Regions from separate parts of the Homo sapiens genome. Here region 2 is linked to region 1. The links come from fine-mapping of genetic effects on plasma protein levels. A gene starts in region 1. The other region holds a variant in brackets. All regions are shown on one strand. Distances are from middle to middle.

What was found. PIP is the posterior inclusion probability: the model's chance that the variant is causal. Protein levels are from antibody-based Olink assays in UK Biobank. Linkage for the fine-mapping came from a reference panel and not from the study's own genotypes, which makes the PIPs less certain.
Region 2: its variant is fine-mapped to the plasma level of the NFASC protein (UK Biobank, PIP 0.99).

Annotation. Positions count from the first base shown.
Region 1 is chr1:204,827,080-204,829,982 of GRCh38, forward strand. NFASC (neurofascin) reads left to right here and starts at 1,573. Exons shown (of 30, transcript NM_001005388.3): 1 at 1,573-1,703.
Region 2 is chr1:204,980,821-204,983,723 of GRCh38, forward strand. NFASC (neurofascin) reads left to right here. Exons shown (of 30, transcript NM_001005388.3): 21 at 978-1,200. Among named protein-coding and RNA genes, the nearest start is that of CNTN2, 61 kb to the right of the region's middle. The variant CT/C (reference allele first, on the strand shown) is at 1,236.

The DNA.
Region 1 (2,903 bases):
TCTGTTCCTGACACAGCAGCAGAACAGCCTGCAAGGTGCGTAGGCTCTTCTTAGTCCCCAGAGTCCATCACCAGCAGGGGGTGCCTCTCCCTCCATCAGGACTTGCCTGCAGCTCTGGGACACCACCGAGGCCAAGGAAACACCTTCACCCTCAGGGCCTCTGGGGGTCACCATGCTCCCTTTAGGCCCACACTTAATTTCTTTATACTAAGGCCATGAAACTTGAGTCCCAGTTCAGTTTCAACCACCAAACCACTGTGTGGGGTCCATCTCTCTAGACCTTCGTGTATTTGCTGTTTAAAAGTAATGAAGAAAGGGGAGGGAAGGCTGAACAATAATTAACATTTGTAAAGAACAGTTTGGTTCAGTACCTTATCTCATTGATGCTCACTCTATGCCCATTTTACAGATGGGAAAAAGAAGACTTAGAGAGGTTAAGTGAACTGCCCAAGTTTACCCTGCTGGTAAGCCAGGACTTTCTTGGCAAATCCTGTGATCCTTCAACTTGACCATATTAGAAGATTCTAGTATTGGTGAAATCTAAAACTTGTAGGGCCCATCTTAAAATAGCAAAGTAGTTTTAACTAGGCACTGTCAGATGCATCTGGGCTTTGAATTATTACTTGGGCAGGTTCCTTGAACTTTGGTGTTCTCATCCAGAATAAAAGACAGTGGTGCCAGGGTAGGAGCTATGAGCACAGAGAAAGTAGCCCTTGAATGGGGCCACAGAGGGATGCTGCAGGGGACTGTAGTTTTGGATGAGGAGCTGAACTAGAAGCTTCCAAGTGCTCTTCCAAGACAAAGATTCTATGATTCCCTAACTGGGATCTTTCCACTGTTTCAGGTGATAATTCTGAGCTCAGATCCTGTGCACAGAACCTAATGCAGTCTTCGTGTCAGAGCTAGAAGAGACCTTGGGCGACCACCCAATCAACTTTTCATGGTTCAGTTGTGGAAACTGATGTCCACAGATAAATGTCTTGCTATCATGTCAGATAGTTCTCCAGCCACGACTGAGGCCTGAGTCCCCCTAGGGCAGAGGAAATCTCCCATTTCTAAAAGAAAGCCCCGCACTGTTCATAGCAGTCACAACCTCTCTCACATCCCTGAATCAGGATCCAACGACTTGCCAATCAACAAATGTTGCTGGAGAGTTTACCACAAACAAGTCTCTGTGCTAGGCCCTGAGAACACAAGCTGTCCGGCAACTTCCTGCTCCCTAAAGTCACAGTCTATGGTGGAGGTGCAAACAAGCGATCCTGTTGGGGCTTCAGGGTACTTCCTCCTGTGTGCTTTGCACGTAGTAGGTGCTCAGCGAACGGAAACGGGGAGACTAGTTATCACTCTCCAGGCAAGCCCGCAAAGAGGCCTCAGGTGAAAAGAGAAAGGAGGATTTTTTTTTCCGGCCCTGGCTCTGCGCACCGCTCCCCAGCGCGCCAGGCGGGGCTGCGTCCGGAGCATCCTTCCCTCCGCCTCTGTCCTGGTCCCCGCTCAGCGGCCGCTAGGAGCGCGAAGGGAGGGGCGCGGGGGCGCGCACGCAGGGTGTCGGGGGCGCGCCGGCCGCCCGGGGACGCGCACGGGCTGGTCTCTGCCCTAATGCGGCGGCTGGCGGCGAGAGGCGCTGCAGGGGACGCGGGGGAAGTGGCGGCGCCGGCAGCGGACAGCTCGGACAGCGCCCAGGGCCGGAGCCCGAGCCCTTGGAGGTAGGCGAGCGCGAACACCGGAGAGATGGGGGTAGAGAGTCATGGAAACCCACCTAGCGACACCCCCTTGTTCCCGCCCTCGTCTGTCTCCATCCCCTGACCTGCCCCCTCCCCCTCCGTCCACATTCCCATCCCTTCCCCTCTCCACACTGTCACCTGCCCCGAATCCATCCGATTCTGTTCGTATGCCCACCCCGTCCCCGTCCAGCTCCCAGCCCCCTGCCCACCCCAACACCCTTTCTATCTCGTTGGCCGCGTCCCCTCCCCCTTCCCGCATCCTCAACCCTTTCCCTTTCCTCTCTGTCCCCGCCTCATCCGTGAGCCCTGCCTGCCCTTGTACTTCTGTTTACCTCGACACCCCACTTTGGATGACCCCATGCCTCCTGTATTTCCTACCGCACACATCAGCCCCTTCTTGCCTCCCCTATTCTCTTCCCCATCTCATGCCCCTACCAGTTGGTGTCCTGTCTCTCCATTTGCTCCCTCAGTTTCTGTCCTCCCCTGGTTCCCCCTTGCACGCCCTGTCCCAGCCCCTTCCCAGCTGCCTCTTGGTGTCCTCCTGCATCACAGTCCCTCTCAAGAACCCCGCCTTCTCCCCCCTTTGGCTGTTAGCTGGCCTGACACCCGTCACCTTCCCTAGCTGCCCTTCCTGGTGCTGTGTGGAGCCATACAGCCTGTACCCAGCCCTCCCTCAGTGGCCTCTGGACCCCCCTTCCCTGGGTGGGGATCTTGGTTGTGGAATATAACCCCTTTCTGCATGTTCGATCCTATTTGTGGCTTGGGGAAGAATGCTGGGGGTTAGTAGGCCTCTCTCTTATGTTCCTCTCCAGCCATGCAGCCACTCTACTCCTCTAGCTGTTCAGGTTTGTTTCCTAGATGGATTGGGGGAGGGGGTGCTAGGCATTGGGAAACTAGGATGGGGAAGGGGCAGGGTCCAGGGGAATGACTGAGCAGACTCCTCCTGGGGCTTGGCCTGAGCCCTGATGTAAAGGCCTGGATGAGGAGCCCTGCTGGAGGGCTGGATAATTTTGGATTTTAGAAAAGATTCTGCTTCAGCCTCCAAGTCAGCACTTTGGCATCTGGAGCTGTCATGAGTGTGGCCCATGGGCTGGGCCAAGAGTGGGCAGAGTGCTGAATCACCTAGAATCTGGTCCCCATGGCAGCCCCCATCCTGTCCTGAGCCAGGTTCTGCTCCTGACT
Region 2 (2,903 bases), 150 kb after region 1:
CCCTTTCACTGGAGATTTGTGGGAGCTGGGGAGAGACCAACATCTGAGATGTGTCCAGTACAGGCTTTCTTTTGGTCCAAGAATGGACTAGGTCATTCCAAAGACTCCCTCTGGTCTTAGAAAATCCCATCTTCATGCTGGCTCACTGACTACATTTTCCAAACCAAAACTGGAGTATGTGGTCTCAAAATGACTTTTTTCCCAAACCACTTCCCAGTCTGAGAATGCAAACGCAGCCACTGAAATATTAACATTTCTGAGCTTCTGCCATGAGTAATGGAAACTGGGAGATGCAGTGTTTGGGATCATGACCTTCCCTGTCTTTCTGAAGGCTGCTCCCACAGCAGCCTTGGCCAAACAGGGCAACGGCAGCTGGGCTGAGCCCAGATTCAGGACCCTGGTCTGTGGCTCTGTATAGCAGGCTCCAAGAGGACTGATTCCTGGGCCAGGCCCTTAGAAAATAAAGAGCAGAATCACACCCATGTTTAAAGAACTCTGACCTCTTGGGAAGGACAGGACAGACACACACAAATTCGGTAGAACTAAAGTCCATTCTGGAATTTTGAGTTCATTAGCAGGAGCCATGCTGTGGTTAACCACAACTCATTTCTTCTGACTTTGGAGAAGTTTACCTTTTGTCTATATTTTGCTTTATTGGTTGCTCCTGTCACAGGAAGGAGTTTTGTTGAAAATAAAACCTTTGCACCTACAAATGCGGGTGGCTCTCAGAGTCAGAGTAACTGGGTCTCAGGCGAAGCCTGTGTCACAGAAAATCTGCATGCTGCTGGGTTCACAGGACCTTGGGCTTTTGGGGGACTCACTGGGGTGGGGGATATGGTCTTCCCTACCCTGCAAGGGGGCAGGCCAGTGTTGGGCACATCTGGAAGGGATGCCTGGCACAGCAAGAGAGGGCAAGCTGTGGGTGGATCTGGGCCCCTCTCTGGCAGCCTCTCCAGCCTGTCTGTCCCTCTGCCCAGCCCATGAATGCCACCTCGGCCTTTGGCCCCAACCTGCGCTACATTGTCAAGTGGAGGCGGAGAGAGACTCGAGAGGCCTGGAACAACGTCACAGTGTGGGGCTCTCGCTACGTGGTGGGGCAGACCCCAGTCTACGTGCCCTATGAGATCCGAGTCCAGGCTGAAAATGACTTCGGGAAGGGCCCTGAGCCAGAGTCCGTCATCGGTTACTCCGGAGAAGATTGTGAGTAGTCTCCTCCCCGTCCCCCCATCAGGACC[CT/C]TGTGGCTAGGTCGCACGAGGCCACGCTCACAGGCCAGGAACCTTGGGGTGGGTATGGGAGGACAGCCAGTTCCCAGGAAGGAAAAATGTTCTGTAGTGACCTAGAGCAGACAGGCACCCAGTAATGTCAGGAGTGGAAATATCATCCGAACGTAGTTGGAATTACTGAATGTCATCACCCAGTCCAGAATTCTCATTTCACAGATGTGAAAACTGAGGCCCAAAAAGGGAAAACCCTCGGCAGTGTTCCATAGTCATCAATGTCAGTCTTGAGAACAGAGCCCAGGTCTTCCGATCCCCTGGCAGTCTGCCTTACTGCTAAGCCATACTAGTACCAAGAAAAAACATCAGGACTACCCATCCTAAAGAGCTATAATTAGACACTTCTGTAGGAAGCAGGGCAGCTGGCCAGAGGTTCCCCCGGGGAAGCCTTGAGGGATCAGGAGGCCTCCTCAGCAACCAGACAGGAGCACCCCAGACCAGCCCCTCCTGGTGCTCCCGCTGCGGCTCCCAGCCCTGGGAACTGAGCACAGAAAGAGAAGGTCTTTGGGGGCTGGCCCCTGGTAAAACAACAAGATTCTGGTCATATACATGGACATATATGCCTGGCTTCCCAGACGGTGGTGGCCTCTCTGTCCCCAGCACATCAATCCTGTAGGCTGCTAAACAAAGCAGGGGTGTCGGGGAGTCCCCTCCTGGTTGAGGGCCTTTGCGCCCTGTTGAGTCTGGGTCTGATCGGAGAAGTGATCATGTAGGTGGATGGAGTGGGCAGAAGGAAGGGAGGAGGGACAGTCTTGAGTGGGGGAACTTAGAAGGAGCAGTCAAGAGTACGGCCAGTGGCATTCCTAACAGTGAGATGGAGGAAGGGAGGGCTGGGCCCTGGGCCCCACTTTCCCAGAGGTGATTATGGATTGGACTCACAAGGGAGATGAGCAGAGAGGGTCAGCAGGTCCTCTGTCCATCCCACTCCTCACCTCCATGGTGGTGGGCACTTCAGACAGGAGCCCGATGGGACCACTGGATGGTAAGTGCAGAAAGGGTGGCATCTGGTCATGGATTTTATGGACCAGCCCACAGTTTCCATTGCACGCTTCTACCCTGCGGCCCACGCTCTGATGGATTAGAAGGGACGAGGCAGAGCTGCTTTTGCGGCAGAGTGGAGAAAACAGGGACAAGAATCAGTTATGGGGGAGGGAGGGGCCTTCCCTTTCCAGGTAGTCGCAGGGTCAGAATCACTTCCTGAACTAGATTAGGGCATCTTCAACCTGTGGGTAATGTTTCCTGCCAGGAAACAGATGCATTCTCAAAAGGAACTATTTATAACGTGTGGAGAGAGTTGGAGGGAAAACGGCAAGATACGTGATCCACCTTAAAGGCTGGCAGCAGCAGGAAGCCATTATGCCACTCTGAGCCTCCATGGACGGGGATAGATGAGTCCACAGCAAGCAAGGACCGCCCTTAGGAGCCATGGCCTTAGGTAGAAGAGTACAAGGCTGTCAACCTGTAGCCCAGCAAAGAGGAACCCAGGGGAATTGATACCCACCCTTCCTCTTCTCCTGCCCTGGGGCCTCCTGTTGGCACCTGCTATTGGTTAAACCCATCTGGAAGCCTGAGAACAAGGGAACCCCGCTGATAAGGTCCAGCGAGGGCAGCCCCCCAGGAGACGG